4 linked regions of the Homo sapiens genome follow. The protein of the gene in region 3 purifies or fractionates together with the protein of the main gene of each other region. This does not show direct contact. Each region holds a gene or a part of one and is shown on either strand. Other genes may lie near its edges.

Region 1 (7,021 bases), on a different chromosome or scaffold from region 3:
TATGTCCACAAAAAGATATCACAAGAATGTTTATAGCAGCTTTACTCATAAAAGCCCCAGACTGAGAAACAACCAAAACATTTATCACCAAGAGAATGGATAAACAAATTTTGAGATATACACAGCATGGAATATTTCTCAGCAATAAAAAGGAATAAAATACTGATATAAACAATATGGCTGAATCTCACAAACACCAAATAAAAGAAAAAATCAGACACTAAAAGCTAGATATAAGAGTACATACTCTATGATTTCATTTTAGGAAGTTTAAGATCAGAAACAGTTATAGAAATAGAACTAAACAGAAATGGTTACCTACCTCTGGGGCTGGGAGAAGGGAGGTGTGCATTGGCCCCTTATGGGGTCCAGAATAGAAAAAAAAGTTCCACAATTTGGGTCATATTTACATGGACATGATGCTATATGGAACAGTGTTTACAGAATTGGTAATTAAATGAGTGATCTAGCACAACTTCTCTCCATAAAATGCTCACATTTGGGCTGATATATATATTTGTCAAATTTCAACTTCTACACTTAAGATCAGTGCATTTTATTCTAAGGAAATTATACTTCTTAAAATAATACTAAAAACCCCCCAAACTCTGAAATTTTAAGCAAGCCATTATTGAAGTAGATACTAAAAACCTTTTTAGCTGCCCATTATCTTAAAATGTTATCTTACCAGCAACAAAACTATTGAGAAACGTAGTACATCTCTTGGAATCTCGAAACATTACCTCTCTGGAATGCTATATATGTCATAAGAAAATCTAGACATATCATAACAAAAAAACTGGAGAATTGACAAAAACGAATTGACTACATTTTAAAAGCAGATTTCAAAATAAACTTTTAAAAGGATAGATTGTTGTCCAAGAAATAATGACAGCTCACTGTGTTAAATAGTATACTTTCAATTATGGAGGGAAAAACCAGGCAAGAAATGCAGAACCTGGAACTTAAGAAGTAAATATGCAAAATTTAACCCTGGCTGGAAAGAATTGCTATTGAGAAGGTATGAATGAACTATTAGCTCTTGAGACTAGTAGCATGAACCAATGGAAATAATCAGAAAGGATATACTATAAAACATCATTTTAGTTATAAATTTTACCCAACCTTATGATATAGTTTGGCTCTGTGTCCCCACCCAAATCACATCTTGTAGCTCCCATAATTCCTATGTGTTATGGGAGAGAACCAGTGGGAGATAACTGAATCATGGGGGCGGGCCTTTCTCATGTTGTTCTCATTATAGTGAATAAGTCTCACAAGATCTGATGGTTTTAAAATGGGAGTTTCCCAGCACAAGCTCTCTCTTTGCCGGCTGCCATTCATGTAAGACATGCCTTGCTCCTCCTTGCCTTCCACCATGATTGTGAGGCCTCCCCAGCCATGTGGAACTGTAAGTCCATTAAACCTCTTTCTTTTGTAAATTGTCCACTCTCAAGTATGTCTTAGCAGCAGTGTGAAAACAGTAAATTGTTACCAGGAGTGGGGTGCTGCTGAAGATAACTGAAAATGTGGATGCAACTTTAGAACTGGGTAACAGGCAGACGTTGGAACAGTTTGGAGGGCTCAGAAGAAGACAGGAAAATGTGGGAAAGTTTGGAACTTCCTATAGACTTGTTGAATGGCTTTGACCAAAATGCTGACAGCAATATGGACAATAAAGTCCAGGCTGAGGTGTTCTCAGATGGAAATGAGAAACTTTTTGGGAAATGCAGCAAAGGTGACTCTTTGTATGTTTTAGCAAAGAGACTGGCAGCATTTTGCCCCTGTGCTAGAGACTGGTGGATTTGTACTTGAGAGAGACGATTGTACTTGAGAGAGATGATTTAGGGTATCTGGTGGAATAAATTTCTACGTAGCAAAGCATTCAAGAGGAGACTTGCGTGCTGTTAAAGGCATTCAGTTTTGTAAGGGAAGCAGAGCATAAAAGTTTGGAAAATTTGCAGCCCAACAATGCAATAGACAAGAAAATCTCATTTTCTGAGGAGAAATTCAAGCTGGCTACAGAAATTTGCATAAGTAATGAGGACCCGAATGTTAATCCCCAAGACAATGTGGAAAATGTCTACAGGGCACGTCAGAGGTCTTCATGGAAGCCCCTCCTATCACAAGCCTGTAGGCAGGCCTAGGAGCTAAAAATGGTTTCATGGGCCGGGCCCAGGGTCCCCACGCTGTGTGCACTCTAGGGACTTGGTGCCCTGTTTCCTAGCTGCTCCAGCATGACTAAAAGTGGCCAAGGTACAGCCCGGGTTGTTGCTTCAGAAGGTGGAAGCCCCAGGAGTTGGCAGCTTCCACGTGCTGTTGAGCCTGAGGGTGCACAGAAGGCAAAAATTGAGGCTTGGGAACCTCCCTCTAGATTTCAGAAGACGTATGGAAATGCCTAGATGCCCAGGCAAAAGTCTGCTTGCAGGGGCAGGGCACTCACAGAGAACCTCTGCTAGGTCAGTGTGGAGGGGAAATGTGAAGTTGGAGGCCCATACAGAGTCCCTACTGGGGCACTGCCTAGTGGAGCTGTGAGAAGAGGGCAACCGTCCTCTAGACCCCAGAATGGTAGATCCACCAACAGCTTGCAGCATGAGACTGGAAAAGCCATAGACACTCAACGCCAGCCCATGAAAGCAGCCGGTGGGGGGCTATACCCTGCAAAGCCCCAAGGGCAGTGTTGCCCAAGGCCATGGGAGGCCACCTCTTACATCAGGGTGACTTGCATATGAGACATGGAGTCAAAAGAGATCATTTTGGAACTTGAAGATTTGACTGCCCTGCTGGATTTCAAACTTGCATGGGGCCTGTAGCTCCTTTGTTTTGGCCAATTTCTCCCATCTTGAATGGCTGTATTTACCCAATGCCTGTATCCCTGAGTGTATGTAGGAAGTAACTAAGTTGCTTTTAATTTTACAGGCTCATAGGCGGAAGGGACTTCCCTTGTCCCAGATGAGACTTTGGACTGTGGACTTTTGAGTTAATGCTGAAATAAGTTAAGACTTTGGGGACTGTTGAGAAGGCATGATTGGTTTTGAAATGTGAAGACATGAGATTTGGGAGGGGCTAGGGGCAGAATGATATGGTTTGGCTCTGTGTCCTCACCCAAATCTCACCTTGTAGCTCCCATAATTCCCATGTGTTGTAAGAGAGAATCAGTGAGATAACTGAATCATGGGATCACGGGGGTGGGTCTTTCCCCTGCTGTTTGCATGACAGTGAATATGTCTCACAAGATATGATGAAGTGTTTTGTTCATTCGTTTGTTTGTTTTGAGACAGAGTCTTGCTCTGTTACCAGGCTGGAGTGCAGTGGTGCTATCCTGGCTCACTGCAATCCCCGCCTCCCAGGTTCAAGCCATTCTCCTGCCTCAGCCTCCCTAGTAGCTGGGATTACAGGCACATGCCACCACACCCAGCTAATTTTTGTATTTTTAGTAGAGATGGGGTTTCACCATGTTGGCCAGGATGGTCTCAATCTCCTGACCTTGTGATCTGCCTGCCTTGGCCTTCCAAAGTGCTAGGATTACAGGCATGAGCCACCATGCCTGGCCGATGATGAGGTTTTAAAAACAGGAGTTTTCCCTGTACAAGCTCTCTCTTTGCCTGCTGCCATCCATGTAAGATGTGACTTGCCCCTCCTTGCCTTCCACCATGAGGGTGAGGCCTCCCCACCCTCGTGGAACTGTAAGTCCATTAAACCTCTTTTTTTTATAAATTGCCCAGTCTTGGATATGTCTTTATCAGCAGCAGGAAAGTGGATTAATACACCTTACAATATTCCCCATGAAAATATCTGCATATATATTTGAGATTCTTTTTAATGACATGTTATACAGCATAGTGATTACAGAGTTGATGTTTAAAAGAGTGATCCTGCATGACTTTTATCCTTAAAACTCTTTTAAAAACACTTAAAAAAAAACTTTTTAGAAATGAAAAATGACTGCCTACATAGGATATTGATTAGTACAGAGACAAATACTATTTTTGGAGATACTCTCCATTAGTATTAGTAAGCAATTATCAATGTGCTGTAGTCAAACAAAAAGTGAAATGTGAAAAGGAGCACTCTCACCTGATGTATTCCTCTTTATTTTCTTCTGTTACAAGAATATTGCCACCATTAGGTTTCAGATCATGACTCTTAATTTCACCTAGAATTTCTTTGTCAACGGAGAAGTACATTTCCAAATCACATTCCTCAATATTGTTTTCCCTGCACAAATGAAATTAGCACTATTTGTTATATCCACCAATTCAATCATAATTTATAAGTTTTTAACGAAAGGCCCATGTTCTTAAATAATTAATATTAAGCTATAACATCAAAATAAGAAGAAATAAGATTCTGTTCTAAGGTCATATTATTGCCGAAGATCTTGGGTGTATTTTTGTAAAATTTATCATATTGAATAAAAAGACAGGTTTGATATATAGATCATTTAAATACAATAAACCAATTATGTGCCTACAGTTTGGATAAGTTATCAATACTACACGGAATGCATATAACTATATTTTAATAAATTACATGGAAAAAGAAACTTACTTAACCCAGATGAGAGAATTGTAAAATTCTGGATCAATAGATTCTAAATCCTTGAGTCCAACTGGTTTGTTCAAGATACGCTTATAGAATGGTAAAGAAAAACCCGTGTCTATGAATTTCCCATGGAACAGAGCCTATGAAAAAAGGAAACAAGACCGCTTAAAATAACTGTACAATAATCATTTTATTTCAATATATTAGATGTACTCTTCATTTAAAAACACTTCCCTGGGTCAGGCATGGTGGCTCACGCCTGTAATCCCAGCAATCTGGGAGGCCGAGGTGGGTGGATCACCTGAGGTCAGGAGTTCGAGACCAGACTGACCAACATGGAGAAACCCCATCTCTACTAAAAACACAAAAATTAGCCGGACATGGTGGCACATGCTTGTTTGTAATCCCAGCTACTCGGGAGGCTGAGGCAGGAGAATTGCTCGAACCTGGGAGGCAGAGGTTGTGGTGGGCCGAGATCACGCCATTGCACTCTAGCCTGGGCAACAAAAGTGAAACTTTGTCTCAAAAAAACACTTCCCTGGCTGGGCACGGTGACTTATACCTGTAATCCCAGCACTTTGGAAGGCTGAGGCAGGTGGATTACCTGAGGTCAGGAGTTCAAGACCAGCCTGGCCAACATAGCAAAACCCCTTCTCTACTAAAAATACAAAAATTAGCCAGGCATGGTGGCGCACACCTGTAATCCTAGCTACTTGGGAGGCTGAGGCGGGAGAACTGACTGAGTCCAGGAAGCAGAGGTTGCAGTGAGCCAAGATCGTGTCACTGTACTCCAGCCTGGGTGACAGAGCAAGACTCTGTCTCAAAAATAAAAAACAAAACAAAACAAAAAACCACTTCCCTTTCTCTCATATGATCTGTTATGGCACCTAAGAGAAAATTTAGTATTGCTGAATAAGCAAAGTAAACATAATTCTTGACCTGCACTTACCATGGCAATAAATCTGCCAATAAAACGAAAATATTTCAGGTGATCTGGATTGATGTAAGAAGCGGGGTTTATCTGCAAGCAGTAGTTATCCTTCCCTGCATATTCAAACAGGCAATACATTGGGTTCAACACTTCATGTGACAAAAGAAAGAACCATTCTCTGAAATCAAAAGAAAATTTACGATGAAAAATCTTGTAGGTTACCAAGAAATCAAAGAACAGTGCTATAAAGTTCTCAGGGATCTATACCCCTCAGCTAGTGATAGTTTTCTAATCTCATGTTGATTTTTATTGCTTCTGTTCAAACTCACATCTGTTTCACAGAGTTGGTAGTATACACCATCTTTGGTAGATGGTAATATATACATTATTACATTTCAAAAAATCTAAGACAACATTGCACCTTTATTTGATGAACGACTAAATTGTATTTTCCAATTTTACCTGAGATACATCGTAATTTCAGAGATATTATAAAATGAAAATATTAGTCTTAGAATCAATGAAATACTATTCATAGGCAAATTTAAAATTCACTATTTACCCATGTGAGTAAAGTGGCTGAAATCAATCTAATATTCCATCTATTACTAAGTCCCATAATAATCCCCATCAAGTGCCACTACTCCCTACACGTTAAATCAATATGAAAATTCTTCCAATTTCACAGAGGCAGTAAAGTTCTTAATTCCAGCCACTCACATATTAGAAAAATGCTGAGACTCTAAGTCAAATATTGTGAAAATATGAACCAATATTAACATAAGATTATGGTTACTAAAACTACGTAACATGGGTGATCTGGGGTAATACATGTGGCATAAGCCTGTAATCTGGATCTCTTTTCCTGTTAGTTCATGGCCTCTTGTGATAAGTGTATCTCATGACACACTTTAATATTGCTAGTTTATTTTCTTATTAGGAATGAATGATTGCTCTCCTCTTCAATTGCCTTTAACTTATACAAAATTACATGTTTCTACTCATATTTGTTATTTATCTATGATTATATCATATATTTTGAAATAATTTTATTTAAACTCAGAAACATAATATAAATAAGAACTACTAAAATGTAGCCACCAATTAGCGTGCACACAAAGACACAGGCTCTGAACTAGGTCATTAATAAACAATATTTCTACTCTTCACAATAATCCTAGAAATGTAGATATTAATATTCTTATTTTACAGATGAAAATATTTGCCCAACATCACACTATTGAGAGCAGAAAAAGATTCAAATCCCGTCTTGACCCCAAAGTCCTTGTCTTTGCACAATGCCAGCTCTACGCAAATTTTTAACCTGGTGTGATATATTATCATGGAATAAGCAAAGCAATTCTCATTAGAGACTATCTTCTAGGGTCCAATATTAAGCTCCAATATGAAGAAAGCAGAATTAAGACTTTCAACTCCTATTTTGTACAACCTTCTATATTTTCATGACAAATATACTAATCTCAGTTGGAAACTGAGTAACTATTACCTGTATCAGTAATCTGTGGTGGGGAAAATGACCTGATC
Region 2 (7,947 bases), on a different chromosome or scaffold from region 3:
CTCGCTCTATCGCCCAGGCTGGAGTGCAGTGGCACGATCTCGGCTCAGCGCAACCTCCGCCTCCCGGGTTCAAGTGATTCTCCTGCCTCAGCCTCCCGAGGAGCTGGAATTACAGGCATGCGCCACCATACCCGTTTTTTTTGTTTGTTTTGTTTGTGTATTTTTAGTAGAGATGGGGTTTCTCCACATTGGTCAGGCTGGTCTCAAACTACCGACCTCAGGTGATCCACCTGCCTTGGCCTCCCAAAGTGCAGGGATTACAGGCGTGAGCCACCGCGCCCAGCCAATTTTGTTTTTATTTTTATTTTTAGTAGAAACAGGGTTTCACTATGTTGACCAGGCTGGTGTCGAACTCCCGACCTCAGGTGATCCACCCACCTCAGGTGATCCACCCACCTCAGCCTCCCAAAGTGCTAGGATTACAGGCCTGAGCCATTGCACCTGGTCACAATTTTTTTGTTTTCAATAGAGACAAGGTCTTGCTCTGTTGGCCAGGCTAGAGGGCAGTGATTCAAGCACGGCTCACTGCAGCCTAAGCCTCCTAGCCTCAAGCAATCCTCCAACCTCAGTTTCCAAGTACCTGGGATTACAGGTGCACACCACTGTGCCCAGCTAATTTTATTTTATTTTATAGAGATTGGGTCTTGCTGTGTTGCCCATGCTGGTCTTGAACTCCTGGCTCAAGCGATCCTCCCGCTTCAGTCTCCTAATATGCTGGGATTATAGGCATGAGCCACTGCACCTGGCCAAATACTATATTTTTTTTATCTGCATTTGGTTGAAAAAGGTCTGCATACTTCTGTCTCCTGGGTTCAAGAGATTCTCCTGCCTCAGCCTCCCAATTAGCTGGGATTCCAGGCAGGCACCACCCCACCTGGCTTTTTTTTTTTTTTGAGATGGAGTCTCGTTCTTGTTACCTAGGCTGGAGTGCAGTGGCGTGATCTCGGCTCACTGCAACCCCCGCCTTCAGGGTTCAAGCGGTTCTCCTGCCTCAGGCTCCCGAGTAGCTGGGAATACAGGCACCCGCCACCACACCCGGCTAATTCTTGTATTTTTAGTAGAGACAGGGTTTCACCAAGTTAGCCAGGCTGGTCTCGAACTCCTGACCTCAGTTGATCTGCCCGCTTGGCCTCCCAAAGTGCTGGGATTACAGGCGTCTGAGCCACCGCACCCAGCCTGACCTGTGCAGTTCAAACCCATGTTGTTGAAGGGTCCACTGCGATCTGTCTGCTCGAGGGAGGAGATGTTAGAGTCTGGGGGTTCAGAGCACTGCCCCTGGAGCACAGTGGCCTCTGTTCACTTCTGGTTCAGCTGCCTGCAAGTTGTGTGAACTTGGGCAAGCCACTGAACTGTTCGGTGCCTTTGTTTCCCCATCTATGAAATGGGTTACTAGGGTTGTGATGGGTGTTCAAGGAGCCAATATACATGAAACGGTTGGAACTGTGACTGATACAGTGATTGCTGCTCTTACTATTGTTGTTACTGAGGGCGCCATGATGGTGGACGTGGAGACAGAAGGATACAGGTGGAGACCCAGGGATCAAAGGAGAGGGAAAGGGTTGGGTAGGGGCCACAGAAGCCAGCTGGGTGTCTTTGAGAGACACTCCCCTCCCAGGGCCTCATTAAGCCCCCACTAGGAAATAGACCATCCCCTCCATGGACCAAAATATTTTATGACTCAGGTTTTCCCAGCAAGGAGAGGAGTGGGGCGGGATACCTGGCCTGAAACGCTCCTAGAAGGGACTGTCCCACACAATACCTTCTGTCCCTGCTCCATGGGAGGGGCAGCCCTCACCTGCTGGTCCTGCTCCCACACACTGGATCTGGGGATCTGAGCCGCCTCTTCTTCAGACATCGTGCTGCAAACAGGGTCACCCTGCGGGGCAGGATTGAGTAAGGGGAGCACCTGCCCAGGCATCAGATCCTGTCAAATTGGGCTCTGTGACTTGAGCAACTCTCAAACCTCTTGGGGCCTCAGTTTCTTCATCTGCATAATGGGGCATTCTGTGGAGCTCAGACAATGCATGTCCAGAGCTCTGTACACAGAGGGTGTCCAATAATGAGCCTCTGGCAAGGTAGGGTTGCCGGAGTGACTCGAAGCATGGTCTCTGAGGTGAGAAAGACCTGGGTTCAAATGCTACCATTAATTGCGGTGTTATTTTTATTATTTTTTTAAAGACAGAATCTCTCTCGCCCAGGCTGGAGAGCAGTGGCGCCATCCCAGCTCACTGCAATTTCCGCCTCCCAGGTTCAAGTGATTCTCCTGCTTCAGCCTCCCAGTTAGCTGGGATTACCCACGTGCCACCATGCTCGGCTAATTTTTGTATTTTTAGTAGAAACCGGGTTTCGCCATGTTGCCCAGGCTGGTCTCAAACTCCTGGGCTCAAGTGATCTGCCCACCTCGGCCTCCCAAAGTGCTGGGATTACAGGCATGAGACACTGCACCTGGCCAGCTGTGTGATTTTTGGCAAGCACCTTCACCTCTCTGGGCTGCTTCCTGTTTTGTAAGATGTGGGAGGTCCCTGCTACCCCTGCGGCCCCTGCCTGGGCCCAGAACTGCCCAAGCACCCTAGACGGCTGGAGGTGGTAGCTGCTGGGTCCCAGTCCACTCACAGCTCATTTGACAGACAGGGCAACTGAGGTACGCAGCAGGTCCATGCTGGTCCCAAGGTCACGCAGCCAGCTAGAGTTACAGGGGGGGAGCTCGACCTCGGGCCTCAGACCTGCCGCCTGCGATCCCTCCGGTTGCCACCCCGCGTCCTCTGAGGCCTGGTCCTCGCCCAACTGGGTCCTGAGCTGGGGCCAACCGGGCCAAGGGTCCCAGCCACCTGCTCTGGCCGGTCATACCCGTCCCACGCCGCCGGACCTTCGCCCAACCACCCTATCTGGAGCTCCTCTCCTAAGCCCGGGGGGGCGCTCCCGGACGCCGCCCTCAGGGCACTCACCTGGGCGCGAGCGGCTTCAGACACCAGCTGTCTCCGCCGACCCCAGGCTCGAGTCTCCACACCCCCGCCGGTCCCGCCCGCCCTTCTTATAGCTGCTCGCGCAGTGGGGGCCTCCGGAACTGACCAATGGGGAGAGGCCGTGCGGGGGCGTGCCCAGGGGGCGTGGCTCCAGGCTTCCCTCGCCCTCTCCTTGAGCTGGCCCAGTGCCCTACGGTTGCCATAGTAATTCGGGAGCGCTAGATTCAAAAGATTGAGCTATTATACGTTCCCGGACCAAGTTTGGCCACCTGTCATCCTCACTGCTGTTGCCATAGAGACAGTCCATGCGATCACAGCCCCCATAGCCCTGCTGAGTGACCTTGGCCAACTCGCTGATGACTTTTCTTATTAATTATTATTATTTATCGATTTTTGAGACTGGGTCTTGCTCGGTTGCCCAGGGCTAGAGTGCAGTGGTGTGATCATAGCTCACTGCAGCCTTGCCCTCCCAGGCTGAGGTGATCCTCCCGCCTCAGTCTCCTAAGTAGCTGGGACCACAGGCACACACCACCACCCCCAGCTAACTTTTTAAACTTTTTGTAGAGACGAGATGTCCCTGTGTTGACCAGGCTTGTCTTCAACCCCTGAGCCCCAAGTGATCCTTCCACCTCAGCCTTCCAAATTGCTGGGATTACAGGTGTGAGCCATTGCACCCAGCCTCTTTTTATTTCTTAATCTGCCCCTTAACTAAGCCAGAAGCCAGGCCTTCCCTTTCCCTAGGATCCCCATTTCACAGATGAGCAAGCTGAGGCTCAGAGATCATAAAACACTTGCCCCGCATACCACAGCAAGTGAGGGATCCTATTCCTTTTTTTTCTTTTTTTTTTTTTGAGACAGAGTCTGACTCTGTCGCCCAGGCTGGAGTGCAGTGGCGCGATCTTGACACACTGCAACCTCCGCCCCCTGGGTTCAAGTGATTCTCCTGCCTCGGCCTCCGGAGTAGCTGGGATTACAGGCGCCTGCCACCACACCTAGCTAATTTTTGTATTTTTAGTAGAGACGGGGTGTCACCATATTCGTCAGGCTGGTCTTGGACTCCTGACCTCGTGATTTGCCTGCCTTGGCCTCCCAAAGTACTAGGATTACAGGCATGAGCCACCGTGCCCGGCCAGGGATCCTATTCAAACCCAGCCCTGCTGGACCTCAGAACCCTGCCTTTTCATTGCCTTGCCTGGAATGACCACAGATGTAGGCATGGTCTTTTTATTTTTATTTTTATTTTTGAGACACAGTTTCACTCTGTCGCCCAGCCTGGAGTGCAGTGGCGTGATCTTGGCTCACTGCAACCTCCGCCTCCCAGGTTCAAGTGATTCTCCTGCCTGACCCTCCCAAGTAGCTGGTATTACAGGCACGTGCCACTGTGCCTGGCTAATTTTTGTATTTTTAGTAGAGACAGGGTTTTGCCATGTTGGCCAGTCTGGTCTCGAACTCCTGACCTCCGGTGATCTGCCTGCCTCAGCCTCCCAAAGTGTTTGGATTACAGGCATGAGCCACGGCGCCAGGCTGCATGGTCATTTTTTAGGGAGCTGGGAAAACTGGACATGCCCCCAAGCCCCAGGGTCTTCCAAATCCGATTGCAGCCCCCACATGGCCAATGCTGTATCAGCAGGTGGGCCCGGGACCCTGCTCATCCCTTCAGCCCCATCCTGCCCCTGCAACCTTGCCCGGGGGCAGGTGCCCCCTTCGATGATCTCAGGTCAGCATGACAAATCGTTTGGAGACCTGGGCAATCTGGTTTAACTTAAACCTTCTCCTAGGACACAAGCCCTGGCAGAAATCCACTGGTAAAATGACACCCGGGCAACAGTCAAGGTTTTATTTCCAGTTAGGTCCCAGGATGGGGGAAGGGAGAGGAGAAGTCACAGGCCATTGATCCCAACTGTCATCCCCTAGGGAGACCATATCCCACACCCCAGGGCCTGGGCCATGCCTCTTTTCCTCCTTCACCCTGGAGTCCTGGGAAGTTGATTTGAGAAGATGCTAGGAACACAATGAAAGCCAATTCATCCGATCCAGTTTTCAAGGGTTATTTATTAAACCCCTTGGTTCTGACCCCAAGCTAAGTGGGACTCAGCATCAGACCCTGCACTCAGAGAGCCCCCTGACTTGGGGAAGACAGAGTCAGAGAAAGGCAGCCCCAGTGTGGCCAGGGCTCAGCTGGAAGGAAGGACAAGGGGCTGGGAGAACCCAGAGTTCAAGAGATCTGGGAAACAGGGAACGGCATTCCAGACGGAGGGCACACCTTGGGCATGGGTAAGGAAAGCCCATCGTGTGTTCTAGGAAGCATGGATGGATGAAACGGGGTCCCAGCCGCTATGGACAGCCCCGAGTTTCACCTGTAAAAGGCAGGATTATTTGTTTTTAATTTTAATTTTAATTTTTTTGAGACAGTCTTGCTCTGTCGCCCAGGCTAGAGTGCAGTGGCACGATCTTGGCTCACCGCAAGCTCCGCCTCCCAAGTTCACGCCATTCTCCTGCCTCAGCCTCCCGAGTTGCTGGGACTACAGGTGCCCACCACCACGCCTGGCTAATTTTTTATATTTTTAGTAGAGACAGGGTTTCACCATGTTAGCCAAGATGGTCTCGATCTCCTGACCTCGTGATCCGCCCACCTGGGCCTCCCAAAGTGCTGGGATTACAGGCGTGAGCCCCCGCACCCGGCCAAAGGCAGGATTATTTGTTAAGCGGGTTGCAGTGTTCTACCAGACCCCCCACCCTCAACCCAAGCCCCTGGTCTCACTGGGACTTGGCCACTGCCAGGAGCGTCTGGCCCTTCACGGCTTCAGGCCCAGCACAGCGCGTGTCATTCTGGGAAAACATCTTGTCTTTTTGGGCCTGAAGCCAACGATAGAGGTCGCTCAGGTTCTGGTCACAGATCCAGGGGTTGCCGGAGATGTCGAAGCCATCCCGCATGTCCCAGTTTGGCTGCCCTAGGGATGCCCAGAGCCCCTCGGGCACGCTGGCCAGTGAGTTATTGGAGAGGTCCAGCATGTCCAGCTGCCGCAGGCCCTGGAAGGCACCGGCTGCCACCCTGGCCAGCTTGTTGCCGTTCAGGAAGAGGTAGCGCAGGTCCGGCTGCGGCAAGAGGAGATCTTTTCCCAGTACTTGCAATTTGTTGCCTTCTAGATGTAGCCGTTCTAATTGCAGCGGACCCCTCAGGAGGTCAGGTGGCAAGGTCTCCAACTGGTTCTCCCCAAGGTCAAGGGTGCGCAGGAGGGTGAAGTTGGCCAGCAGCCCGGGGGGCAGTTTCCGGAGGCGGTTCCCAGACAGGTCCAGATGCCCCAGAGCTTTCAGGCCGTGTAGCCACGAGACCTCCAGGACCTCCAGCTGGTTTTCTTTCAATACCAGGGTGTCCAGGGTGGCTGAGGCCTGGAAGAGGCCCGGGGGCAGCCCGGTCAGGGCGTTTCGGGTTAGATCCAGCACCCTCAGCTGCGGCACTGGCCGCAGGAATTCGGGCGAGAGGCTTTCCAGCCCATTGCTGGAGAGGTGCAATTCTTGGAGCTTAGAGGCGCCCTGGAGGAGGTTGGCTGGCAGGTGGGTCAGGTTGAAGAATTCCACGGCCAGGTGCACGGTGTCGGCTGGCAGGTAGCCGGGGATTTCGGCAGGTGGTTGACAGGAGATGGAGCTGCCATGGTCTGAGCGGAACACCTGGCAGTCTTTGGGGCTCAGGGTGACCCCCCAGGCTGAGGCTGCCAACAGCAGCAGCAGGAACAGAGTTCTAGAAACATGGGGTTGAATGCCCCCTGGGCTGCAGGCAGTAACAGAAGATGCTTACTAAACCACAGTGAAAATACACTCAGCTAGGTGAAAATACACCAGCAAATCCGCCCACTTCTTCCCATCTCTGCGGCTACCAGCCTGGACTATGCTACCTCATCTCTCACCTGTACTAGGGCAGTTGCTTCCTCCTCCTCTTCCAGCTTCTACCCTCACCCCCGACAGCTGCCAGAAGTGGCCCCTGTTCCAGGGAGAATTATAATTCTAGGAAAGTTGAGTTTCTGAGTGTAACTCCCGCATAATATGAATACACTTCCCCATCACCAGCCTAGCCCCCATGAGCTGTTAATTATTCACAGTCCAACTTGCTAGTTTCTTCTGATCTGGCTTATTTTCTGGGTCAGTCCTTGTCTCCCTGGCTCTGTGTTTTGATGTGAACTCCTATTCATCCTTCAAAGCCCCAGCTCCAATGCCCTCTTTTCCATGAAGACTTCTCTGCTCTGGGATCCTGGTCTTTTTGTCCACTCTTGACCAATTGGGTGCTTGGAGGAAGACAGACGTTCAGGTTCATGTTTTTGAGACAGAGTCTTGCTCAGTTGCCCAGGCTGGAGGGAACTGGCATGATCACAGCTCACTGCAGCCTCTGAACATGAAAAGTGTGTCCTGCTTTGGCCAGGTCTGAGGGTGGGCATTTGGCCTTGGGAAGCGGTGGTTTACACTTAGCACCACAACCCTTGGAAGCCTGGGGCTTCCCCTCCTCCTCCAGGGCTTCCCTGGCCCGGCAGCCATCAGACATGATCTCGACAGCCTTGGTCACTGTGGCCCCAGGCCTCTAACAAGAAGCCTCCCCCGGCTCCCTGCTGCCCATGCCCACCTGGGCTTCTGTAGGGGTGTGTGTGTGTGTGCACGCGCCAGTCTTTCTGTCACAGATAAGGTTGATCTGTGCCAGCCACCAGGCCTGTATCTGCTCCCTGTGACTTCTATGGGTTAGCTGGAATGTCCTGTATCTCCGCATGGTCTGGCGTTCAAACCTGCCTAGGACAGGTAGTGTGGGGACCTACCTTTTTGGTCGCTGTCTGCTCCAAGAGGACATGGTAGCTCTGCTCTTTTGCTTCTGGGTTGTCCTGGCCTGCGGAGGTGGCCTTATACCTGCCTGGACTGGGGGCAGGGGAACCAACCCTGGGGAAGTCCCCACCCCCGTCCAGTTCCTGATAGGGGCTGAGCCTAAGCCAGGCAGGGGAAGGGG
Region 3 (7,678 bases):
ACACGAGTTTAATTAGCCCCTGGGGCTCTACAGGGAAGAAATAATCAGACTTCAAGGGTGCCCCATTCCCCAGAGTCCATTCCTGGTATTTGAAAGAGCAACATGCCCCGGAGTGTTGTGAGTCCTCTGGAGGCTCAAGGAGACCTAGGGCCAAAAGCGAGGACTCAATCCTTTTCTGCCAGTATCGGGGGACAGTGCCCCGACGTCCCAGGAGCCCAGGGCGACACCAGCCCAGGGGCGGGGATCGGGCAGGATTCTCGGTCTACTCACGCCCGGGCAGCCGCCGGCTCTTCCCACTGGATCTCCGCCGGGACCAACTCCCACCCTCGCCGGACAAGCTCAGACCTGCTGCTCCGCAAAACCAGAATTGGAAATGCTCCAGATGGGACGAGGAACAAGGACAGAAAGTCAAAAGCATCAACAGGTGGCTTCGCCGGAGGGCGTCCGAGAACCTCTGCCTGCTGAACCGCTTCACGCCTAATCCCCGCCACCCACCGGCTGAAATGTTACCACACAAGACATAAATTCTAGAATCCTGTCTGCGGAATTCCCCGCCCCCCGCGCAGTTGAAACTTGCACAGGGCCACTCGCGTGTCTCTGGGTGGTAAAATTCTCCATGCGTGGTCAAACGGCTTATGCATAGCTCAGGACCGTTACGTGCGACCCCACCAGGACTGAGTGGGGACAGCCGCTGCGCCCCCACCACCTACTAGGAGCTGCGGTAGGACCTCCAATGCCCCAGGGGCCTAGGCAATTTCCGCTTCAGCTTCCTGGAGGTCCCCAGCCCAAGGCTCAAAAAACTGCACACTATCCGGCCCACCCCGGGTCGCGCAAGACTTTCGGGGGGAGGGGGAAACCCAGCGACCCTGCAAATGGCTTCACCTTGGAAACCGGTATAAGGAAGCAAGTAATACCGTGTTAAAAGAAGGTCAAATGTCAGTTACAAACAGAAACGTAAAACATAAAGTCGCTAGAGAAAGCCATTTTAACGAGGACATTTGACCCAAAAGCTTAAGTAAAGCAAGTATTAACAAAACAAGAAAATGGATGTAAAGCAAACAGTAAACATTAAAAACTCCCTTTCAACCCAGTCTTTTTTGTTTAGATCTTGGAGTTGGGCCGGGCATGGTGGCTCACGCCTGTAATCCCAGCACTTTGGGATGCCGAGGCGGGCGGATCACCTAAGGTCAGGAGTTCGAGACCAGACTGACCAACATGGAGAAACCCCGTCTCTATTAAAAATACAAAACTAGCCGGGCATGGTGGTGCATGCCTGTAATCTCAGCTACTTGAGAGGCTGAGGCACGAGAATCGCTTGAACCCGACAGGCGGAGGTTGCGGTGAGCAGAGATAGTGCCATTGCATTCCAGCCTGGGCAACAAGAGTGAAATGCTGTCTCAAAAAAAAAAAAAAAAAAAAAAGATCTTGGAGCTCCAGCCAGGTTTTTTGTTCAACGAAACTTTTGTAAGGTTATTTAGGGGAATCACCAAACCGAAAAGTGCCAAAAACTCCGTTCCTCTTATCGGAAATCTCTCTCTAAAGCAGGTCAAACCTTCCAGAGCCCGCTGTCTGTTGTAGATTATCGCAGTTTGTTGATGTCCAAAAAGCTTTACTTATGCTATACGCTATCCCCCTACTGGTTTCACCCCTCATTGCTTAAGAACAAATTTCAAATGTCAACCAATTAAAATATTCGCAAGACCTCTGGCGTCCTTGAATTTACTTCCTGCCCGTGGAGCCAAAAACTGATTCTGAATTTCAGTGGCCTTTGTTCTACTGCGTGCCACTGTTAATATTAAAAGAACATGGCCTTCTGTCCAAATCCAGACACCCTCAAGCAAGAACATCTTGAAGCCAGTTTACATTTCCCAGTCGTTTTGAGGCGGTGGAAAAGTGGCAGAAACAGGTTCATTTTAAAAGGCTCTAAAAACTTTTCATTAGCCAAGCATTCCCAGCTTTCCCAAGGCAAGCTTTCCTTGCACTTGGGCAAAATAGACATTAAACTGCTCTGGAAAATAACCGCCCTGACCAGGCTATTGTGAAATTCCCTCCAGGGCGGCGGCTCCCACTGAGTGAGATCGAGCGCATACACAATTGTTGGGAAAGTCCACGTTCCCAACAACTTTCGAAAGGAAAAATGCCAGATCTTCTCAACAGTTCACCCCAAGAATTGAACTCTCAAGATCATTTTAAGCAAAGTTTACACGACGCTGAGGGCCCGCCACTGAAGCTCGCGGGTGGGCCTCTGGGGCTGCGGCTGCAGGGGGCGGCCAGAGTTGGCCAAGGGTTACTTCCGGTCTCTCAGGTCCATCGGGGTGCAGCTTGTACCGCTGTGGCCCAGGTCGCCCCTTTCTGGGAATCCGGGGCGGAGTTGCGGGTAGAAGGGGTTCGGGGGTTCGGAGCCGGGCGGAAACGGAAGCGGGGGCATTCCGCAAAGCCCGCGGTAAACAACCGAGATAAGGAACCTACAAAACTGAGTCAGGTTCCAGAAGCGCCCCCGCCATCCCCTGGCCACTGCCGGCCACCTGCAGTTTCCCGGAGCGCAGGGCTGTGAGGAGCGGCGCGGGGTGGGACGCGGGGCGCGGCGGCGCAGGGCCTGCTGCAATGCTGACTCAGGGCCGGGCGTCGGGGCTTGGGGTCTGGGACAGCTCCGGCGCCGCCAGCGCGGGGGTCGAGCGCGGGGCACGTACCGTCCTGTCGCGGCCGGACTCTCCTGCCGCTGCCACCTCAGCCTTCGCTCCCCTAGACGCCGGGAAGGCGCACCCAAGATGGAGGCAAAGAAACCGAAAGCCTGGAAGCGGACTTGGTGCTGGGCGATCGCTGTTCGCGGCGCTTCTCTCCTACACCTCCTCCCGTGGTCCTTGTTGTCTCAGCTGTCACTGGACAAAAGTCCAATAGCCGGCACTCACTGTGTGAGGCCGAGTCCCCACCCCTAGCTCCGGGAGTCCCTTTTAGTTGAGACTCGTCGGTGAGGCTGCAAGCTCGCTGTTTCCTGCTATGGCTTGTGTGACTGAGTATGCAGTAACCGGGGGTGGATGTCGACACAAGTTCCACGCGTTAGGAGTAAACACTGCGAGTGTTTTTTTTTTTCTTTCTTTCTTTCCTTCTTTTTTGAGACAGAGTCTCGCTCTGTGGCCCAGGCTGGAGTGCAGTGGCGCAATTTCAGCTCACTGCAACCTCCGCCTTCCTAGTTCAAGCGATTCTCTTGCCTCAGCCTCCCGAGTAGCTGGGACTACAGGCACGCGCCAGCACGCCCGCCTAATTTTTGTGTTTAGTAGAGACGGGGTTTCACTGTTGGCCAGAATGGTCTCGAACTCTTGACCTCGTGATCCGCCCGCCTCGGCCTCCCAAAGTGCTGGGATTACAGGCGTGAGCCACCACGCCCGGCGCGAGTGTTTACAATTGTTGTCTGGGAGTCATAGCAAACGTGAACACACTTTGTGGTTTTTTGTGTGTATGTTTTTGTTTGTTTTTTTTTGTTTTCCTTCTTGAGACAGGGTCTCGCGCTGTCGCCCAGGCTAGAAGGCAGTGGCGCCATCACAGCTCACTGCAGCCTGGATTTCCCGCTCTCAAACCATCCAGCCCTCAGCCTCCCAAGTAGCGGGGACCACAGGTGCAAGCCACCATGCCCGACTAATTTTTTTTTTTTTTTGTATTTTTAGTAGAGATGGGGTTTCACCATGTTGGCAAGGCTGGTCTCCAACTGCTGGCCTCAAGTGATCCTTGCCCGCCTCGGCCTCCCAAAGTGCTGGGATCACAGGCGTGAGCCACCGCGCCCCTCTACGTTTTTATTTATTCCTAATAACTACTTTATTGTGATTCTTAAAGAGCTTTAACTTTTCTTGAGATAATTTTAAACTCACAGGAAAGGTGAAGAATAATACCAAGAGAGACTAACAGCAGGACGGCATGAAGAGCTCGGGATTCACCCCTAGTGAAACTGAAAATTATTTAAAACAACAAACAACCATTAACCATTTAAAGCCTTTGAAATGGTCCTAAGGGCAAACAGCAAATGAAGAAACATCTGTTCCAAAAAATCTATGAAAACTCTTGGATCAGAATGTGAGAGTCAGTCTGTGGTATTTAAACCAAACCTCTCCCTTTGTTCAGCAAGAGACTCCACTCCAGACTGCTGCAACTCAGAACCTCTCTCTTCCCACAGCTCCCAGTCAGAGACCAGCATATCAGCATTTCTCATCTTGCCCCTAGCTACCTGATGCTGAAGGTAAATCCTGGGGGAGTGTGGTGGAGAGGTGGGAGATTCCTTCTTCCATCCAGAGGCTCTACCTTGGGTGGAGTGCTGAGACACCAGAGGAGACTTCAGCTCTTTTTCTCCATCACTTTCACCCCATATTCACCCCCAACCTTTTTTTTTAATCTCTCCATCTTCCCAAGATAGTTATATTCTGTTTGATTAATCTTCAGTATATATGCTATTATAATCATGTAAACGGTAGTCACAGCCAAGTTATGTACCAAACTATGATTACTTTTCCTTTCCCACACAACTTTTAGTTTTTTCTGGAGTTAATAATTGTCTTGTTTTGTTGGTTTTTCCATGTAATTCTATCCTAAACTCTGTCAGTTATCCAAGTTTGGTTTTTTGTTTGTTTTTGAGACAGGGTCTCACTCCAGGCTGGAGTGCAGTGACCCGATCACAGCTCACTGCAGCCTTAACCTCCCAGGTTCAAGTGATCCTTCTGCCTCAGCCTCCTGAGTAGCTAGGACTACAGGTCCTAGCATGCCACCATGCTAGGTGTGCCACTACAGGTGCCACCATGCCCAGCTAATTCTTTAAAAAAAAATTTGTGGCCCGGCGCAATGGCTTATGCCTGTAATCCCAGCACTTTGGGAGGCTGAGGCGGGTGGATCACGAGGTCAGGAGTTCAAGACCAGCCTGGCCCAGATAGTGAAACCCCATCTCTACTAAAAATACAAAAAATTAACTGGGTGTGATGGCGGGCGCCTGTAATCCCAGCTACTCAGGAGGCTAAGGCAGAGAATTGCTTGAACCCGGGAGGCGGAGGTTGCAGTGAGCCTAGATTATGCCAGTGCACTCTAGCCTGGGAGACAGAGTAAGACTCCATCTCAAAAAAAAAAAAAAAAAAAAAAAAAAAAAAAATATATATATATATATATATATATATATATATATCTAGTAGAAGCGGGGGTCGTGGGTGGCAGGGAGTCTTGCTATGTTGCCCAGGCTGGTTTTGAACTTGCCTCAAGTGATCTTCCTGCCTAGGTCTTCCAAAGCACTGGGATTACAGGCATGACCACTGCTGCTCTTGGCCTTTCTTATCTTTTTAGTACACCAAGAAAATTTTATTACAGATCAGCACCTGTCCTTAATTTGGAAACTACTATTCAAGAACACCTAGCTTAGCACCTCCATCACCACCTCCAACCCACCCTATCCCAAGTGAAAGCCATTTCTGGTTGTCAGTAGAACCATCATAGTGGACTTACCCCAGGCCCACCTTGCATGCCCACTGATTCTTACCACTTCAACACACACCAGTATGACTTCTAACCCAGCATATCCATATGTCGTTCCCTGAGGGCTTTTTCTGGCTCACATTGGAAGCCCATGTTGTCATCCCATTTGGCAAACCAGTAGGGGCAGGCATTTAACCCCCTACCCCTGTGCCATCCTTATCCTTTGGCTTCAGCAGCCCTCAAAGAATGACTGTATACACCTATGTTGACACTCCCACCTGCAGTCCACTTTCCATTTACATCCTCTTAAAATCAGCCACCCCTTGGGCTTAGGGATGTGCATACTTGCAGCATAGTTTGTCCCTGGGGTATGGACTTGGGGAAGAGGCCAATGTAGGCCCTGGTGGGAGGCTCAGGGCTCTTTGCGTAGAGAACTTCAGGTCTTAGGTACCCAAAGAGGGTTTATTCTTTTTGTTTTTTTGAGACGTAGTCTCACTCTGTCACCCAGGCTGGAGTGTAGTGGCACAATCCTGGCTCACTGCAACCTCTGCCTCCCAGGCCCAAGCAATTCCCTTGCCTCGGCCTCTCAAATAGCTGGGATTATATGCGCGCACCACCATATCCGGCTGATTTTTGTATTTTTAGTGGAGACAGGGTTTCACTACGTTGGCCAGGCTGGTCTTGAACTCCTGGCCTCAAGTGATCTGCCCACCTTGGCCTCCCAAAGTGCTGGAATTACAGGCGAGAGCCACCACACCCAGCCCCAAAGAGGGTTTTAAACAGAGGGTCTCGGTGTGGGCATGTCCTCTTGACCTTGCAGACTCCTCCCACCTCTGATGATTCTCCTCACCTGAGGGAAGGGCACAGCCCAAGAAGAGCCGGAGCAAGGCCCTTCTAAATCAGGGCCCACAACAGGACCCCCAGTGCCTGGGTCCAAGGGCAGTATTGCTTAAGCCTCTCTGACTTTCTGTTTCCACACTTAACAAAGTAGCAACAAATGTTCACGTTTTCATCAAATTCACTGGTTGTAAACCTTGGCTGCACATTAGACTGTCCCCAAGGAGCTGCAAAAACCTCAGTGGCCAGGTACCATTCCAGACTAATTGTATCAAAATCTCTGAGAGTGAGACCCAGGGATTGGTAGTTTTTAAAGCTCCCCGTGTGATTTCAATGTACAGTTAAGATTCAGAACAACTGATCTAATCCAAACATTTTCTCACTCCGTCAACCACAACCCAATTTTCAGATGAAGAATCTGAGGCTTAAAGTGAGTTAATAAATTGAGACATCTCACAACTAGCTAGTGACAGGACTAGGACAGGATGCCAAGAATTTATCTAATGCTTTTCCTTATATCACAGTGGGTGACTTGGGAATGGAGAATTAATAGCCACAGCAATGACTTTATATCTACTCTCTTAGCCACACATCCTGCCTCAACTCCTCTGACATTCTGGGAGAATATATTCTTGGCTGGGTATGGTAGCTCATGCCTATAAACCCAGCACTTTGGGAAGCCAAGGCAGAAGGAACACTTGAACCCAGGTGTTCAAGATCAGCCTGGGCAATACAGGGAGAGCCTGTCTCTACAAAAAATTAAAAAATTAGCCAGGTGTAGTGATGCATACATGTGGTCCCAGCTACTCAAGAGGCTGAAGTGGGAGGATCACTTGAGCCAGGCAGGTTGAGGTTGCAGTAAACCATGAGCACAGCACTGTACTCCAGCTTGGATGACAGAGTGAAACCCCGTCTCAAAAAATATATATAAATAAATTTAGTTTAAAAAGAATACATTCTTTTTTTTTTTGAGATGGAGTCTCGCTCTGTCGCCAGGCTGGAGTGCAGTGGCATGATCTCAGCTCACTGCAACCTCCGCCTCCCGGGTTCAAGCGATTCTCCTGCCTCAGCCTCCCGAGTAGCTGGGACTGCAGGTGCGCGCCAGCATGCCCAGCTAATTTTTTTTTTTTTTTTTTTTTTTGAGACAGAGTCTCACTCTGTCACCCAGGCTGGAGTGCAGTGGCACGATCTCGGCTCACTGCAATCTCCGCCTCCTGGGTTCAAGTGATTCTCCTGCCTCAGCCTCCCAAGTAGCTGGAATTACAGGCGCCCACCACTACGCCCAGCTAATTTTTTGTATTTTTAGTAGAGACAGGCTTTCACCATGTTGGCCAGGCTTGTCTCGAACTCCTAACCTCATGATTCACCCGCCTCGGCCTCCCAAAGTGCTGGGATTACA
Region 4 (7,021 bases), on a different chromosome or scaffold from region 3:
TATGGTAAACAGCCAATCACATTCCTAAGACACAGACTATGGAGGACTGTCCACAGGATCGAGAGGATGAAGAGACCACTCTCAGGGCAGTAAAAGGCAAGGAAGATTTTCTCTTTTTTTCAGAGACAGGGTCTTGCTCTGTTCACATGCACCTTTTATTTTTTGTAGAGAGGGGATTTCACTGTGTTATCCAGGCTGGTCTTGAGCACCAAGGCTCAAGTGATCCTCCTGCCAAAAGTGCTGAGATTACAGAAGTGACCCACGGAGCCCAATCAAGGCATAGATGTTTTAAGGAGAAACTGACTTCAGGAAATCCAGCCTGTAATCCCAGCTACTTGAGAGGCTGAGGTGGGAGGATCACTTGAGACCAGGTGTTGGAGTTCAGCCTGGGCAACATAGCAAGACCTTGTCTCTATAAAAAAAGGAAAAGAAAATTCAAACTACCAAGCAATTTGCAAATTTGATGCTAACGAGCTGCAAACAAACACCCCAAGGGGAGCCATAACAGACAGCCAGGGCCCAAGCGCTGGGGATCCCCGTGCGGAGGGGCCCTCTCTACCTCGGCTTTCAGCACGTGCATCAGGTTGCCCTTCTCCATGTACTCCATCACCAGGGAGTACTTCCCTTCCTCTATGATGACGCCCAGGAGCTTCACCACCCGGCTGTGTCTCAGTCTGTTCATCATCTTCGCCTCCTCCAAGAGGGCCTCGTTGTGCCTGTGGGCAGGAAAGGTGCTATGCTGAGGCTGGCAGAGCCAGCGCCTCAAGAGCCTGGTGCACACCTCCAACACATCACTCCCACGTGCTGGGGTCATGCTTGGGTCTGTACCGATCTCTTCCAGGCACAGGCCAGAAGCGTTAGAAGGCAGAGCGGTTTCTCACTTCCTCACAGTACTCCTGCCCAGTAACTGGCAGTGCATGCTCCAAAAATGTAAATCAATGAAGGAATGAATGAATCAATGAATGAAAAGTACATGAACAGCAGCAAGGTAACCTGAAAAAAGACCGTGCTGGACAGAACGATTAAAAAAAAAAAAAACAGCCTCTCTCAAAACCACTCTGACAAAGGAGGGAGAGAGGTGAAACCACTCTACTGGTTGCTTTAAAGGGAAGGCTCTCAGAACCTCTCAGGAATGAACTGCCTTTTCATTTTTATACTTAGGGCTGGTCCTCACTGAAAATGTGAAGCGAGTGAATAGGTCTGTCTTCACCCATCCTCCTGTTTCCTTTTCATTGTCCCCCCACCACACTTATCTCTTTGTCTTTCTCTATTTCCTTCTTGTTCATGTCTCTTCTGTTACTTACCAGCTGTGAGAGTCCTTCACTACCCAGTCTCAGAGTCCACATCAGCGACAATAACAATCCGAAGAGCCATCGTCACCCTGACATCTTGGCAGGCTCCCTCTCACTCTACCCACCAACGGCTCCGCAGCAGCCAACGGCTCCACAACAGCCAACGTCCCCATCCCGCTCAGAACTTAGCCCACCCACCCCTGCTCCCTACTCACTCAATGCAGTTGGGCCCCTTGTACACTGTTTTCATGATCATGAGTCCCTGGGTTCTGTGGAAACACAGAGACACCTTCCCAAAGCCTCCGCTGTCCAGTTCTGCACTCTCCAGGAAGTCACTGGATTTCATCTTAATGACATTCAAGGACATGTCTGGTTGCATTCTGAAGCTCAAGAACGCCCAAAATGGTACCACTTTTTCCCCCCCCGGCAGAGCTGTACCCTGTAAAGAAAACAGAGAGAAAACCTCAGGGCAAGACTATATATATATATATATATATATATATGTTTTTTTTTTTCTCCTTTGGAGACAGGGTCTCACTTTGTCAGTCAGGCTGGAGTGCAGTGGCACAATCATAGCTCACTGGAGCCTCGACCTCCTGGGCTCAGGCAATCCTCCTCCCTCAGCCTCCTTGAGTAGCTGGGACCACAGGTGCACCCCACCGTGACCAGCTGATTTTTTAATTATTTGTAGAGATGGGGGGGCCGGGGGATCTCACTATGTTGCCCAGGCTGGTCTCAAACTCCTAAGATCAAGGGATCCTCCCACCTCAGCCTCCCAAAGTGCTGAGATTACAGGTGTGAGCCATTGTACCTGGCAGAAAAGATCATTTTTAAAAACTTTTGTTAACATTCCACCACATGCTTGGTGTGCCTTGGATTTCTGAGGATAGACTTACAGTCATCTGATGAGCTATTTTTCATATTTTTAAGAATCAGAGAAGACTATAATATTTATTCCCTCAGCCTTTTTATTTCTGGCAATATGGAGCATTAGAAAATTTTAAGAACCCTCCAGCTATAAAGGACACAAGTATGTTGGACAACATAATACAAACATTCATTGAAATGCATACCAAAACTCCGTGGAAAGGAAAAGAACTCTAGGGACAGAAACAGAGCACCGGAGGCAGGCAGTAGCTCACACAGGGGAGTGCCAACCTCGCCATCCAGAAGTCAAGGTTTAAAGCCCAGCTGAGGTCAAGGAATACAAGAAAAGAAGGTAGAATGAAGAATCCCCCCTTAACACGGCACTGCTCAATGTGCAACCCTTTGATGAAAGGATGAACTAGAAAAAAAGCAGCCCATGGCAAACAAACATATTTGTCTTGGACTGGGCACAAGGTATTAAAAAAAAAAAAAAAAAGTTTGTGCAAATTTATAACCTTGGGCCTGTCTTGAAATAGATACAGACTTTGAATTGAGAGGATCGCCTAAACTATGAACTTTTACACAGGAAGTGGTCACAGGCTGATGCCATCCTGAGGTTATAGGCTAAAGCAAACAACAACCTCAAGCCAGGCCAGACAGAATTCCTACAAATACAAATTTAACATGAGCTCCCTTTCCAAAATTATAAAACACAAAAGAAAAAATTCACTGTGAGACAGACCCTGCAGCTACAGCAAGCAGCACTAGTAAGCACCAAAGAACTTCAGTAAATTAACAACTGAAAGGCATTAGAAAATGAATAGGTTTAAGTAATTATGAACAAAAGAAGGAATCTGAAGAATATAAAAAGAACAATGCAAACTCTAAGAAGAAAATGTGAAAAAGGAGTAGAATTTGGAGAATGTCCATCAGGGCTGTGAAGTATACAGTGTCAGATCTCAAAGCACAGCTATTTGCTTCATCCTTCCTCCCTTCTTTTCTTCCATTCATTCATTTTCCCCAAACTGAAATATAGAATAAAAACCCATGGAGAACCACAAGGAGACACCACTACACAACTACCAGGATATCCAAAACTAAAAAGACTAATACACCAAACACTGGCAAACATGTGAAGCAACCAGACCTCTCAAACATCACTGGTGGGAGTATAAAATGGTACAAACACTTTGGGAAAAGGGCTGGCAAAAAGCTTCGTGGCAAAACAGAAACTCCATGCAAACCAACAGGACACGGACACACTGGTGTGTGCATGTGAATGTGCGTGTCTGTGTTTTGCTTTGAGAGTAAAAGGAGGGCTATGGATGTTTTGTATTCCAGAAATACCCACATCCCGGCTGGGCGCCGTGGCTCACGTCTGTAATCCCAGCACTTTGGGAGGCTGAGGCGGGCGGATCACGAGGTCAGGAGTTCAAGACCAGCCTGGCCAACATGGTGAAACCCCGTCTCTACTAAAAATACAAAAATCAGCCAGGCGTGGTGGCACGCGCCTCTAATCCCAGCTACTCAGGAGGCTGAGGCAGGAGAATTGCTTAAATTTGGGAGGCGGAGGTTGCAGTGAGCCGAGATCGCATGCCACTCACTGCACTCCAGCTTGGGCAACAAAGTGAGACTCTGTCTCAAAAAAATTAAAATAAAATAAAATAATAAATATCTACATCCAGATACAGACCATGAAAAATACTCTTTCTGGGGCATAAAATATTCATTGAAATTTCATAGGCATTTATTTTGTTTATAAAACCACAAACACCTGCACTATGACCCAGCAATTCCAATCCCAAGAGAAATGAAAACGTATGTTGGAAAACACTTGTAAAATGTTCATAGCAACTTTATTTATAATAGCTCCAAACTGGAAACAGCTGCCCATCAGTAAGAGAATGAGTGAACACACTGGTGTATGAACACGATGGGATACTACTCAGCAATAAAAATGAACTACTGATACACATGAATGAAAACCGCATGAACGAAATGCAAAAACGTGATAAGTGAAAGTCGCCTTATACAAAAGCATACATACTATGTAATTCTATTTATATGACGGTTCAGAAGTCAAAACCAATCTGTGTCAGAAAAAGAACACTGGCCGCCTGTGAGCACGGTGAGGCTGAGTGGGCAGGGGCATGAAGGAACTTTCTGGGGTGATGATAATGTTGTAGGATATCAACGGGGGCTAGGGTTGCAGGCATACGCATCTGCCCATACTCAGCAGATGTACTCCCAACAACAGCAGGTAAATTTTACATCAAAAGACAAACCTGTAAACATATTGAACTCTAGCTATGGTATGCATGCTGAAGTATTTCGAGATGTGTACTGATGTGTACTTGGAAATACATCAAAAAGTCAGACAATGACGGACAGATGACGGGAAAGGAGATGGAGAATTACACGATGAAGCAAGCGGTGTTAAGACGATAGTCGTGGTGGACGTAACCTTCAGACTTGGTGTTTTTCATAATAAAATGTTGGAGGGCAGGGAGTTAAAAAATGAAAAAAGAAATACCTTGGGGAGAGGGGACTCTGGAAACTCCTAGGCTGCCCATGGTGTTGCACAGTGGCCGGCTACAGGTGACCCGGGTAACCAGCCTTCTACACCTCATCTAAAGGCTGGGGCCAGCTCTGTCTAGCGGAGGAAGCTCATACAGCAGCACCTATGGGCCTTCTTTCCTAGGACATAAGACATTACCAAACAAGAGAAGTGCCTCAGGAAACAACTACATCGGTGGGACGTGGGCAGTGGGTGGAGGCGGGGGGCTGCCTAGATGAAGGCCTGAAGACTGAGGGGTGGGGTGAGGCACACGCGTGAGGTAAGAGACCAGGAGCCATAGCTCCGAGAGCACGGGCCCTCCACTATGAGCGTGAACTCTAGCTCTGTGACTCACCAACCTGTGACCTTGGGGCACTTACTTATGCCTCAGTTTCCTCATCTGCAAAGTGAAACAATAATGACCACCTCACAGAAGTGGTAAGGATTATGAGAAAAAAAAAGTATACGTTCATGTATGTATACGTATAAATATACATATATTTGTATATGTATATATGTAATATATAATATATGATATAAAAATGTATATGTGTGTATATATACACATATTTGTATGTGTGTATGCATATATTGTATATGTAGATATATAGCTATATTTGTCTATGTGTATATACGTATATGTATATATTTGTATATGCGTATATATGTACATATGTATATATTTGTGAAAACACGTTTGTTGCCTGCTTTATGTCTCTAGCTATGGTTGGCCCAGCCGCCCACATGTGTTTATCCACACGGGTGTTGTTTCCTTGGGCTTTGAGAATGCCAACATTCTCAGCTGGGATCACTCTGTCAGCAGGGCCCTACTGACCAATCCTAGTGAGAATGAGGTAGGAGCGGGTGGAGACAGAGGGCATAAAAGATAACATTGATTTTAGGCCTCCTTTTTCATTCACTACACATCACTGGAGCAGGCAGAACTGTGAAGCCTTCCCCATTCCATAAGGGTCATCCGCCCCACCCTCTTAGGCCATATTCTTCCAACTTCTTGCCTGGTTAGGTGTCAGAGAACTGTCATTTTGTCAAGGAAGCCATCCTAAGTCTTCCCATTAGACACTTCCATAGGTAAGACAGTACTGTAATTGAGAATTATTTCTCATGAAGTTCACAGAAGGCAGGAAACTTGTCTTGTGCACCATCTCCAGAGCCTAGCAGAACCCAACGTATGCCGGCCCATCATCAATTGAATAACTATTTTAAAAAGAGAACTATTTAATTGTCCAAAAAAATAAAAATAAAAATATTGTTAAATGAATTACGGCACACTCCTAACAGAATATTATATAGCCATTCAAAATTGTTTTTGACGAATAAATCTGTAAAAATTATATTCACATTTGTGTGTGTTTTATATATATATATATGTAAATAGATAAAGATATAAGTACAGATAAAAAAGACATAAAGACACCAAAATGTTAACAAGGATTGTATCTTGATGATAGGTTGATTTTTACTTTCTTCTTTACACTTTTACTATGTTTTCCAAATTTTCCACAATAGACATGAATTAAATGTAAAATTAAAATTATTTTTTTGAAAGGAATAATTCCTTGACTCAGTATTTCTTTACTCTGAGGGATCAAATCAGAGATGCTGATAAAGATTATGTGCAAAGCTGTTCCTGGTAGCATTACATAGAACAGCAAAAGTAGGTAAAACACTTAGCATGTACAGAGGAGAGAATCAGTTATGCCCATCAACACTGAAATATATCTAGCAGTTTGCAAAAGCGATGTTGTGAAAGAATGTTTAATAATATTTAAAAAAGGTCACAGACAGTAAAGAAACAGGCAGGAACTACAACATGCCCTGAAAAATGCCCTTTTGAGTAAAAGGTTTCTACTTTATGAGGAGTCCTATTTGGTATCTCTTCTTCAGTCTCAGCCACATCTCCTCAAATTTGTCAAGACCAACTAGGACCTGCAGGTGCTGCTGTGTGCGGTGGAGTTTGGGAAGGCCTCTAGTTGGGTCCACTGGACTTTGGGAGCTTAGCTCCTGACCCAAGTCAGTTCTCCTTACAGTCTTGCGGTTTGCTAGTTTAGTCTGTTAATCTTCTGCATCTTCTGCATGGTGTTCAGTGATTTCTTTTGTTTTTCCTATCCACCCCTCTTTTTTCCACATGAAAGATTCAACTTTATGAGCACTGAATATCTTAGGAAGGCCTTGTGAGTAGTTGAAGGATATACAAAAACAGTGAATTTAGGCAGCTTATATGGCCATACTGCATAACCATATTATTACAAAGCCATGACACAGAGTGACAAAGACATGCTGGCCT

What was found.
Region 1: the proteins of CFLAR (region 3) and ITCH purify together in Homo sapiens (affinity purification with western blotting; 8 studies listed by BioGRID). This does not show direct contact.
Region 2: the proteins of CFLAR (region 3) and PLIN5 purify together in Homo sapiens (affinity purification with mass spectrometry; 3 studies listed by BioGRID and IntAct, with this or other methods). This does not show direct contact.
Region 4: the proteins of CFLAR (region 3) and RIPK1 purify together in Homo sapiens (affinity purification with western blotting; 5 studies listed by BioGRID and IntAct, with this or other methods). This does not show direct contact.

Annotation. Positions count from the first base shown.
Region 1 is NC_000020.11:34,478,263-34,485,283, reverse strand, and holds part of ITCH (E3 ubiquitin-protein ligase Itchy homolog), read right to left. Parts: intron 5,655-7,021; coding exon 5,495-5,654; intron 4,686-5,494; coding exon 4,552-4,685; intron 4,219-4,551; coding exon 4,078-4,218; intron 1-4,077. UniProt on the Homo sapiens protein: Acts as an Acts as an E3 ubiquitin-protein ligase which accepts ubiquitin from an E2 ubiquitin-conjugating enzyme in the form of a thioester and then directly transfers the ubiquitin to targeted substrates.
Region 2 is NC_000019.10:4,532,220-4,540,166, forward strand, and holds the start of PLIN5 (perilipin-5), read right to left. Parts: upstream 3,006-7,947; 5' UTR 2,946-3,005; intron 1,877-2,945; 5' UTR 1,856-1,876; coding exon 1,796-1,855; intron 1-1,795. Other genes in the region: LRG1 (leucine-rich alpha-2-glycoprotein precursor), read right to left, coding at 5,721-6,732, 7,763-7,794. UniProt on the Homo sapiens protein: Lipid droplet-associated protein that maintains the balance between lipogenesis and lipolysis and also regulates fatty acid oxidation in oxidative tissues.
Region 3 is NC_000002.12:201,111,494-201,119,171, reverse strand, and holds the start of CFLAR (CASP8 and FADD-like apoptosis regulator), read right to left. Parts: upstream 3,009-7,678; 5' UTR 2,691-3,008; exon of another isoform or gene 2,488-2,690; intron 457-2,487; exon of another isoform or gene 271-456; intron 145-270; exon of another isoform or gene 1-144. UniProt on the Homo sapiens protein: Apoptosis regulator protein which may function as a crucial link between cell survival and cell death pathways in mammalian cells. Acts as an inhibitor of TNFRSF6 mediated apoptosis.
Region 4 is NC_000006.12:3,071,474-3,078,494, reverse strand, and holds part of RIPK1 (receptor-interacting serine/threonine-protein kinase 1), read right to left. Parts: intron 4,857-7,021; exon of another isoform or gene 4,693-4,856; intron 1,732-4,692; coding exon of another isoform or gene 1,672-1,731; coding exon 1,508-1,671; intron 717-1,507; coding exon 560-716; intron 1-559. UniProt on the Homo sapiens protein: Serine-threonine kinase which is a key regulator of TNF-mediated apoptosis, necroptosis and inflammatory pathways.